3 linked regions of the Homo sapiens genome follow. The protein of the gene in region 2 interacts with the protein of the main gene of each other region in a biochemical or structural test. Each region holds a gene or a part of one and is shown on either strand. Other genes may lie near its edges.

The links.
Region 1: of the proteins of TUBG1 (region 2) and CUL4A, one has a biochemical effect on the other in vitro, tested with the Homo sapiens proteins (one study listed by BioGRID).
Region 3: the proteins of TUBG1 (region 2) and SPTAN1 form a complex in vitro, tested with the Homo sapiens proteins (one study listed by BioGRID).

What each region holds. Positions count from the first base shown.
Region 1 is NC_000013.11:113,240,522-113,244,170, forward strand, and holds part of CUL4A (cullin-4A), read left to right. Parts: intron 1-2,446; coding exon 2,447-2,639; intron 2,640-3,649. UniProt on the Homo sapiens protein: Core component of multiple cullin-RING-based E3 ubiquitin-protein ligase complexes which mediate the ubiquitination of target proteins. As a scaffold protein may contribute to catalysis through positioning of the substrate and the ubiquitin-conjugating enzyme.
Region 2 is NC_000017.11:42,612,683-42,615,887, reverse strand, and holds the end of TUBG1 (tubulin gamma-1 chain), read right to left. Parts: intron 2,942-3,205; coding exon 2,815-2,941; intron 2,242-2,814; coding exon 2,155-2,241; intron 2,040-2,154; coding exon 1,890-2,039; intron 1,629-1,889; coding exon 1,476-1,628; intron 1,393-1,475; coding exon 1,231-1,392; intron 1,045-1,230; coding exon 847-1,044; 3' UTR 650-846; downstream 1-649. UniProt on the Homo sapiens protein: Tubulin is the major constituent of microtubules, protein filaments consisting of alpha- and beta-tubulin heterodimers. Gamma-tubulin is a key component of the gamma-tubulin ring complex (gTuRC) which mediates microtubule nucleation.
Region 3 is NC_000009.12:128,625,587-128,629,235, reverse strand, and holds part of SPTAN1 (spectrin alpha chain, non-erythrocytic 1), read right to left. Parts: intron 3,468-3,649; coding exon 3,258-3,467; intron 2,846-3,257; coding exon 2,549-2,845; intron 2,233-2,548; coding exon of another isoform or gene 2,146-2,232; intron 1,851-2,145; coding exon 1,738-1,850; intron 1,312-1,737; coding exon 1,294-1,311; intron 112-1,293; coding exon of another isoform or gene 49-111; intron 1-48. UniProt on the Homo sapiens protein: Fodrin, which seems to be involved in secretion, interacts with calmodulin in a calcium-dependent manner and is thus candidate for the calcium-dependent movement of the cytoskeleton at the membrane.

The sequences.
Region 1 (3,649 bases), on a different chromosome or scaffold from region 2:
TGTGTTTTTGCTTGCTGGTGACTATTCTTAAATCCCATAATGAAAAGATAAACAAAATTTCCAGAGAATTACACTAAGAGGAAAAAAAGAAAAGCCAATCACAGATACTTAACGTGTTATTGCATAACATTTTGGAAATGACAAAATTTAGAAATGGAGGATAGATGAAAAGTTACCAGGGTGTAGGGATGGGGCAGGGTGTGTGGTTATAAAAGGCCCCAGGAGGTAGCCTTCTGCGGGAACAGTCGGGGTTTCGGCCGAGGTCTAGATGTGCACACCCAGATGAGTTACGAGTAAACTGGGCCATGTGAAAAAGACGGGTGCGCTGCCATGTCAGTACCCCAGCTGAGACACTGTTGTGTAGTTTCGCAAACCGTTGCCATTGGAGGAAACTGTGGAAATAAAGACACTGGGATTGCTTTGCTATTTTTACTATTATGCAAATCTGTCATTATCTGAATAAAGATTTCCGTTAAATAAAAAAGATAAAGCTTACATGCTGCTTTATGGAATAATCAGACCTGAAGTCATGTATCAGTCCAGCTGTGGAAAGCCAGCACTCACAGCACCCCTCCCCACAAGGTCTCGTACAATGATAGAATTGGAACTTATAACTGAGTCACACTAAATTGGCCATAAAGCTACTGAAGATTTAGGTTTTTTGCCAGTGAGACAGTCTTCAGGGGATGGGAATGTGTGCTAAAAACTAGGAAAAGTTCACCTTTGCAGTTTCCAGTCTGGGTAATAAAAATCAGTGAGTGACCATCACCCCTGAGTGTCAGCAATAAGTAGTTATACTGTAACAAAATAGTAGTTTATATTCAACTCCACATGCCGTTATCAAAATAAAGCTGGGCCTTGTAGTGTATGTGCATTATTTCAAAATGCAGTTAGCACCAAAGGGTGTAGAGTAAGAGGTAAGTCCCTCCCACACCTGCTAGCCACACACCGCCCCTCTCTGGGAGAGTCTGTGCCCTTTCTGTTGGCATCTTTTTTTTTTTTTTTTTTTTTGAGGTGGAGTCTCACTCTGTCATCCAGGCTGGAGTGTAGTGGCGTGATCTCAGCTCACTGCAACCTCTGCCTCCTGGGTTCAAGCAGTTCCCTGCCTCAGCCTCCTGAGTAGCTGGGATTACAGGCTCCCGCCACCACACCTGGCCAATTTTTGTATTTTTAGTAGAGATGGGGTTTCACCATATTGTCCAAGCTGGTCTTGGAACTCCAGACCTTGTGATCCACCCGCCTTAGCCTCCCAAAGTGCTGGGATTACAAGCGTGAGCCACTGCGCCCAGCCTTCTCTTGGCATCTTTCCACCAGCCAGCTACCTCGCGTGTGTGTGTGATGTGTGAGTGCACATGTGCATTCTATTGAGACGAATTTTTTAAATCCAATCATTGTATTCAGTTCCTCTTCGGCATATATAGTTTATATCATCAAATGTTAACTGTTTATTAGTGCCCTACACAGACTTTTAGGAATGTTTAATATAACAGTTTTAAATTAAAAATACAAACTAGGCTAGGCACAGTGGCTCACGCTTGTAATCCCACCACTTTGGGAGGCCAAGGCAGGCAGATCATGAAGTCAAGAGATCAAGACCATCCTGGCCAACATGGTGAAACCCCGTCTCTAGCTGGGCGTGGTGGTGTGCACCTGTAGTCCCAGCTACATGGGAGGCGGAGGTTGCAGTGAGCCGAGATCACGCCACTGCACTCCAGCCTGGTGACAAAGCGAGAGTCCATCTCAAAACAAAAAAAAAAAAGTACAAACTAAAAAAGTGAGCTTTTCATGGTTAGAAGTGATGGAGAAGGAAAACTAGCCAAGAAGTCCCAAGAGGTATATTGAATTAATAGGAATTAACTTGTCTTGGAGGAACTTACACATAAACATTCTTTAAAAAGCAACGGACATTTTCCAGTCGTTTGTAAGTTCTCTCAGAAACAGAATCGTAAGACCAATGCATTAATTGTGTATTTAATTGTATATTCACACCAAGCACAGGGGCTCATGCCTGTAAACCCAGCACTTTGGGAAATCACAGTGGGAGGATTGCTTGAGGCCAGGAGTTCGAGACCAGCCTGGGCAACATGACCCCGTCTCTACAAAACTTTAAAAAGATGGGCCAGATGTGGTGGCCTGAGCCTGTAGCACCAGCTACTCAGGAGGCTGAGGTGGGAGGATTGCTTGAGCTTGGGAGGTTGAGGCTGCAGTGAACCGTGATTGCACCACCGCACTCCAGCCTCGGCCGCAGAGTGAGGGCCTGCCTCAAAAAAAAGTGTATTCACTTAATTTTTGAAATGTGAATTCAATTTGTGAAACTTTTAAAGTTATTGAGTATTTACTACTAAGAGTAATTTATGTTAAACTATCCTGATTATATGATAGCAGGAGAAGATACTGTTTGCTATTGTAAACATGTTGCTGAGTTGGTATTGATTTGCTTTTGTAGACTTTTGGAACAGCGATCGTAATCAATCCTGAGAAAGACAAAGACATGGTCCAAGACCTGTTGGACTTCAAGGACAAGGTGGACCACGTGATCGAGGTCTGCTTCCAGAAGAATGAGCGGTTCGTCAACCTGATGAAGGAGTCCTTTGAGACGTTCATCAACAAGAGACCCAACAAGCCTGCAGAACTGATCGGTAGAAAAATATTTGTTTTTTTTGTTTGTTTGTTTTTGAGACAGTCTCACCCATTTCTAGACAATTTTTTAATATGGGAAAATAAGGCAAAATCAACCAAAATGTTCAAGCTGCTCAAGGGGTGTGTGGAAAGCGTTTTTATCAAGTCTTATTAGGACACAAATTTAAAAACCGACACACCTGCATGCATGGGTGGAGGAGGGCATTTCCATAAGGGAAGATGAGGTAAGAATTTAGAAAAGAAATGATGCTTGACTTCGCCAAAGAAGGGAGGGGTGATCACCATCTTTGTATCCTCTAATCCATATTAAAATAGGATAAAACCAGATGAGATCTCAAATGATAATACTATTTTTAAGCTGTACAATTTTTTCACAATAATATCAAAATATATTTCAGAATTCATAGGCTTTCTCTAGTCAGTAAAATTTTTTTTTTAATTCGAAGGAGAAAGGGGGCAAAGAGAGCTGAAATACGACGATACTAGATTGACTGTTGATTACTGCTGAAGATGTAAGATGGAACATGGAGCTCATTGTGCAATTGTCTGCTTTTCTGTGTGTTCAGAATATTCCATTACAAAATGTTTAAAAGAAAAAAACTAACAAAAACAGCAACAGAAGGAATTCAGGAGGCAGTTTACTTTGGCTTTTGTTCCTCTGTATCATTTGTGGTTTCTCTAAAGCAAAGGGATGTTGAGCTCTTGGGAGTTTGGGCTTCTGGAAGTCTTGGGTTCTCCCATCACATGGGGACTTTGGTCCTCCCTCCCAAGCCACCTGACGATGGCTTGTGCAGCCTCAGAAACAGGAAGCCCGAGTAGAAATGCTTTCACCCTGCGTTGCCACCTTGGATGCTCTGAGAAAGTCTTTCTCTTTGAGAATGTCTCCTCTGCATTCATGACACCAGATCCTAGAAATAGGCACTCCAGCGTCCGGGGCAGTCACGTCCTGAAACCTGAGCATGTATTTGCTGAAGTCATTTTATTTTGAAATTCAGAGATTGCATTTAAA
Region 2 (3,205 bases):
AAAAAAAACAATCCTGAAGACTTAGGCCCCTATGTATTTACTACCTCCCTGCAATCTTCCACCAGAAGTAGAAGGCACTGGCCATTTAAATTACTGGCAACCACTAGAGAAGAGAATTACGGTGCCTTAGCTATGGAACCACTTATGATCCTGCTTACAGTCTAGGTTTTAGATTTGGTCGCTGACTTGATGCTGCTAGACTCCAACTGCCTGAAACGAGCGGCTCTCCTGGACTGCTTGCTAGAAGCTTAAAGGTATTGGGTTGGACTCCATTGCTTGTTCATGGCCTAGTGGCAGTGGTGGTGGCCTTGGGCCTCAGGTTGTGATTAATCAGACACTCTGATGTGGAAACATGAGGCTGGTGGAATATTCACCTGATACAGTGAGGGTGGGAGGGAACGGGGACCCAGAAAGGGTCAGACAGAGAACAAAGTAATATCTCTGGGCCTTTTTACCCTGGAAAGGAATTTCAGGTGGGTCAAACCCCACCAGCGTTCTCCAAAACTAGGCAGAGGAAAAACCTAGGGGAAGCTGTTGGTTCAGAATTGAAGATGCTGGAAGTGGGTGAGGACCCTGTCAGAATGATGGAGAAAGAACAGGCATCCCCACCGCATCTCCAGAACCCAAAGGCTTTAAAGGGAGCAGTGACTTGATTTATATCCAGTGCTTTATTAAAGATAAATAGTCTCATAAGAGGAGAAGTAAATGTGTTTGCAGGCCAACAGAGAGTCCATGTATATGAGAAAGAGATGCGTGAGGTCCCTGATCTGTGCTCTGAGGGGGTGGTCAGTCAGGCAGGGCTTGGGCCAACCAGTAAGGCAGATGAGGGTCCCTGTCCTGGGGGACTCACTGCTCCTGGGTGCCCCAGGAGATGTAGTCTGGCCGTGTGGCCGCATGGTACTCATCGATGAGCTGCTGCACAATCTCCCTGGATGTGTCCATCTCATCAAAGTTGTCCTTGAACATGTCCTCCTTGCGGAACTGCTCCAGGAAGGCCTCCCGCTTACGCAGCTTGTCATACTGGCGACAGGTTCTCTCGAAGAGCTTGGGGTGTGCAGAAAACAGGGGTTACAAAGAACTTCAAAGAATAACGTGGCCCAGAAAGCTGGGGAACCAAGGCTGGGCTATGCCCACAGCAAAAAAGCTAGAAGCAGGGCCAGCAGATGCAGAGAGGTGAGGTATAGTCAGGAAACTGATTCAGGGAAAAAAGGTGCAAACTTTGAGACTCACCGAGGAGATGCTGGTGTGGTTGGCCATCATGAGCCCGCTGACCCGGTGGGCCGAGGGCAGGTAGGGAGACTTCCTCGACAGGGCCACCTGGATGCTGGCGGGGCCCCACGGGATGAAGTTGGCCAACTTGCGTTCCCGGATCCTCTGCAAGCTCTTGTGGACCTGGGGTGGGCATAGGAGCAGTGGAGGTGGCCTCTCCTCTACCCCTGCAGGTCCAGGGTGTGGGATGAAGGGGCCTCCCCTACCTGGGTGGGGTCCACCTCTCCCTGGATGATGTTGAGGATGGCGATGTAGCAGTGGTTGGTCTGGCGGTCTCGGCCTGTGGACACCATCACGTTCTTGGGCTGCAGCAGCCGCCTCATGACATCCAGGACCGTGGTCTTCCTCACGCTGGCCACCTGATAGGACAGTGAGACAGGGACCCGGCCAGCGCTCAGGGCACAGTCCCCCTTTGGCTTCTCTTTGGCAGAAGCCAAAGGCAGAGGGAGGGTGGAGAGCAAGTCAGCAAGAAAGTCGCCCACTCTGTGCCAGTCCCTGAGCGCCGCGCCTTGGGGTCCACAAAGGGTAGCTCCTGGGGCAGTGGGGAAGAGAGAAAGGCTAGGACAGGGCCTGTTGGGCCCAGGGCCGGCCTGGCCTGGGACACTGAAGGCTGCTCTTACTGACTGGTCCGTAGTGAGAGGGGTGTAGCCGGTCATGAGGAAGTGGAGCCGTGGGGTGGGAATGAGCGAGGCGATGAGGCCGATGAGGTCATTGTTCATGTAGCCAGGGTAGCGCAGGGTGGTGGTGCTGGCTGACATGATGGTAGACACCTGGGGACAGGCGTGCCATGTTATGGGCCTCAGCCTGGGTGGGACCTCCCTTCCCCAAATGACCCTCCAACAAGGAGGGCTTCAAGTCCAAAGGAGTCCAGGAGTGGGGGCCCACCAGCTGGTTGATCTGGGAGAAGGATGGGTTCTGGATGTGCAGGCGGTCTGTGGCAATCCGGTTCAGGGCTGTGTTGTCCAGCACCACCTGGGGGGACAGAAGAGGATCACAGATCAATGGGGATAAGAAAAACAGGAGCTCTGCCTGACCCTAGGCTCTGAAGCTTAATTTCCTTTGAGCTTCATGGCCAGAAAGACTCACTGGAAAGAGATTTGCACTGACCTAGGGCAAAGGAGGGCTCAAAATGGATTTTTAAATTTTTCTTTTCATCTTAATTATTTAAACAGTTTTTTTTTTTGTTCTTGTTTTTTGAGACAGGGTTTCACTTTGTCACCCCGGCTGGAGTGCAGTCAGTGACATGATCTCAGCTCACTGCAGCCCCTGCCTCTGAGGCACAAGTGATCCTTCTGCACATATCACCACTCCCGACTAATTTTTGTATTTTTAGTAGAGATGGGGTTTCGCCATGTTGCCCAGGCTGGTCTCGAACTCCTAAACTCAAACGATCCAACGACCTTGGCCTCCCAAAGTGATGGGATTACAGTCATGAGCCACTGCACCTGGCTAAAATGGATTTTTTTTAAATACATGAAAATGATTTAATAGACTCGAGTGGGTATGGGGTGTTGAGAGTTGGGAGAGGTAGAATCCAGGACTCACCACACAGTCTGCATTCTGCGTCAGCCTCTTGAGTGTGAGGAGTGAATTGTAAGGCTGGACCACCACATCGCTCATCTCGTCCTGGTTGGGAAACACTGAGTATGTCTGCACCAGCTTCTTAGGATACCTGGTGGGGGTTGGGGAAAGGATCAGGGCAACAGACCGAAGGCCTGGTGAACATGGCGCTCCCTAACAACTGTCCAGAAGCAGATAAATCTTGATGGCGAAACTGGGGTGGGGTCAAATCAGTAGAGAAGGGAGCCTTGACTTTTGGAAGTCTGTAGCCCTACAGGGGGAAGGGCAGAGACATCTTAGACTCTGGGCTTCCAAATTGAGACCTGGCCACACTCCCTCGACTTTCATCCAGGGCTCAGGTTCTAGGCTCCAGTTC
Region 3 (3,649 bases), on a different chromosome or scaffold from region 2:
GCATCAGTAAAGCCACAGTGAGGTAAGAAGAGAAATAAGGAGAAAAACCTTCCAGACAGATCATCCCCAACTTCATACTGATAGACACGAATGACCCGACGATATGCTATGCTATTCAAAGAAAAGAAACCAAATGAATACACCAAAGGGAGGGGAGGCAAGAGCACACTGCAACAGACACACACAAAGCCCAAGCTGGCAGGGCGCAGGCAAGGGCAACCTGGTGCCCGGCGGGTACCTGGAGGCAGCAGGCCCAGTGGTTCACCCCAGGCAGCTCACACTAGGAATGGGCAAGATGGGCAGGGCTTGGGAGGAGCCATAAGGTGAGGGGAGCGTGGCACCTCACGGAGACAAGAGCAAGACCAGCAGACACAGGCATGGGGCAGGGAGGGGAGTCAGGTGGCCAGGGTGTCCTACGGGCACAGGCCGGAAACTGCGATCCCTACGTCCCCAGCTGCTCTGCCATCAGAATGTGTGGCCCGGCTGGATGGGTCTATTTCTCCCCTGGCCGCCTATACAGGCTTGATGTGCCTGGGTGCAGAGCCTCAGGAGTGCAGGCCAAGCCACTCCAGTCCCAGCAGCCCTGGCTTTCACAGCAGGCTTGGCAGATTACAAAGGTGACCCGGCCAGGCAGAGGCCCCAGGCCAAGCAGAGAAGTCCCTGCCGGGACTGGGCGGGACAGCCCAGCCCTGCTCCTCCCTGGGGCTCCTCCCACGTCCTGTCTATCACATAACGGGTGCATTTTTGCCTTCTATTAGGGCGGACAGTCTTGTTACCCTCCCTGACCCCAGGAAAGTAAAGTGGCAGCCTCAGCTACTTAGGGGGTGTCAGTGCCCAGCCCTTCTCAGCTGTGGACTTACTGTACCCTGCCTGAGCCCCCAGCACTGCCATCTGCTTCATGCCCACTGACCACTGTTGGACTCGCTGGGGAAGCAGAGGTGAGAGCCCAACAGAGCCCGGTGGCTGGACAGGCACGGGGGTTCTTAGGGCCTCTGGACTCCAGCTCTGGCCTTCGTGCTTCATCACCTTCCCTACCCAAAGTGAGCCCTTGGAATCGCCCAGTGAGGCAAGGACGGCTCCCCCTGGCTTGAAGGCTCTATCGGGGACCAGGGACCATGGGCTATGGGGCAAGGCACACACTCCTCATCAGGTGACGAGAAGGGTGGGAGGGGAAGTGCAGCCCGCCCTGGGCAGGAAGGCCCATCCCGGGATCCTCCACAAGCCAGGCCACGAGGGGCAAGCGCACGAGACCCCCACATGACAAGCCCAGAGAAGGAAGAAAACAATATTAACCCATCGAGGAGGTATGTCCTGTGGAGAGCAGATCCAAGCAGCCGGGAGACAAGGTGGTGTCCGGACAACAGCAGCAATCGGGGGGACAGAGAGAAGACACAAGAAAGAAAGGAAAACAAAAGCAAGAACATCAGTACCCAACGCACAGACCCTGCATCGTCTGTCACCAAGTCATGGCTGGGGCTGACCACGCGCCCTGCATGGTCCCACTCAATCCGGGATCTCTAACAACTTGATGTCTGGGACATGCAGCACTGAGAGGCTGCTCCACCTATGCCCCCACTCCCGGCTCCAGAGCCCGACCAGGCGTTGCCAGCCCAGCTTTATTCCCAGGCTGCCTCTGGTTTTACACAAAGCACCACCACCTCCTTGGGGCTGGAAGCTCCCCAGGGCTTAAGTACAGCAGGGACATGCTGCTGCTCCCCGGCCCCAGCGGGCTGGCACCTGGTCTCTTGGATCCACTGGTGGAAGGCGTTGGCGTGCTGGGCAAACTCCTGGCGCAGCTTGTCGTTCTCCTCCTGCCGCCGCTGTTCCTTCTGCAGCTCCAGCTCCCTCTCCTGAGGGCCAAAGGGGGGCAGATGCTGTGCGCTGCTGTGGCAGTGACACCAGCCCCTCCTTCACAGATGGGCTCAGGGTGGTGGTGGCCTCCCCACAAGGAACCTCCCCAAAGATGAGAGGAGGAGGCTGGGAGACATGAGGCCGGCTCAGAGCACTTGGTAGTTCTTTCTCTGTTCCCACCCCCCAGGGGCTTCAAGGAAGAGGCGGACCTGGAGGGAAGCGACTGGTCAGTCAAGCAGGGAGTTGCTGGACTGTCAGAAATGGAAACTTCTGGCTGGGTACAGTGGCTCACACCTGTAATCCCAGCACTTTGGGAGGCCTGGGCAGGAGGACTGCTTGAGGCCAGGAGTTGAAGACCAGCCTGGGCAACATAGCAACACCCTGTCTACAAAAATTAAAATAATTAGCCAGGCGTGGTGGCACGTGCTTGTAGTCCCAGTTATTCAAGAGGCTCAGGCAAGAGGATCACCTGAGCCTGGGAGGTTGAGGCTACAGGGAGCCATGGTAGCACCACTGCACTGAAGCCTGGGTGACAGAGACCCTGCCTCAAGAACACAAAAAGAAATGAAACTTCTGATGAAACCATGCTCCTCCATCCTGCTCGTCTTGTCGTGACTCAGTTAAGTGTGGGCTCTGAGCAGGGCCCAGAGAGGGCTCTGGGAGGCCGAGCAGCTCCTGAGGGCAGCGGGAGGTGTACCTTGATGATTTTCTGTAGGTTCCTCCAGGTCTCCTCCAGGGCCTCCATGGTAAACCAGGTGTAGGGGTTGGAGGCTACGCGGAAGCTCTTGATCTGGCGGTCCAGCTCGGCCAGCTGGTTGAAGTCAGCCTGGGCAGAGCTGAGGGAGGAGCGGAAGGCGTCGTGGGCCTCGCGCAAAGCTTTGATTTCTTCCAAGGAGTTGCAGCGCACGGGGTCTGTTAAGTCCTCCTCTGCATTTTCAAACCAGCTGTTGAAGGCAGAAGCCTTTTTGGCGAAGGTCAGGAAGAGGTCCTCCACCTGGAAGCAGAAGAGACTGAGTTGGCGGAGTCGCCAGGGCTGGACGTGCCGACGCAGTGCAGGAGGTGGGGTGCGGGGTGGTTCCTGGGAATCAGAGGCGCACACAGCCTGCTGGGAGCTTAGCTCCCCTCTGCTCCTGTCTCCTGCTCCCCCTTCAAGTCTTCACCAGCCTTTTTTCCCCTTCCTACCCTTTGCCCTTGTCTCTAGTCTGTCCTGCGTGCTTCTGAATGGCGATCTCACAGGGCCCTCTCATTTGCCCTGGTTTTAATTGATGCCAGCCACACCCATGTTTGAAAGCTCTGCACTGAGCTCACAGCTTCCTCAAGGGGGAGTGGCAGAGCTGGGCAGACAGAAGGTGGGCGTCCTTCCTTGAGCTGTGGGCCAGCTAAGCTTCACGTGGCCCCATCCTCACCTTGCGGAAGTGACTCTGAGCCTCCAGAAGCTTCTTCTTGCGGGCGGCTGAGTTGGCCAGAAGCTGGCTCCACCTCTTCATGAGGGAGGCGTGCCGGGCCTCGATGGCCTTGGACTGAACGTGTTTGGCGGCGAGAAGCTGATCTTTGAGGGCAGTGATGTTGGCAATGCCTTCCTGCTGGAAGGCCTGCAGCCCAGCGTCAAAAGTTTCCTGAACAAGGAGTGACAAGCCAATTTGTGGTGACTCCACAGGACTGGAACTTGCTCTTCCTAGGCTCAGATGGCACCAGCATGTCCCCCAGATGCCCAAGCCAAACTGTCCACCTGGACACTGCTGAGACTCAGTCACACATGCCCCCTTTCCTGCTCTCCTTCAGACCGCAGATCACTGCG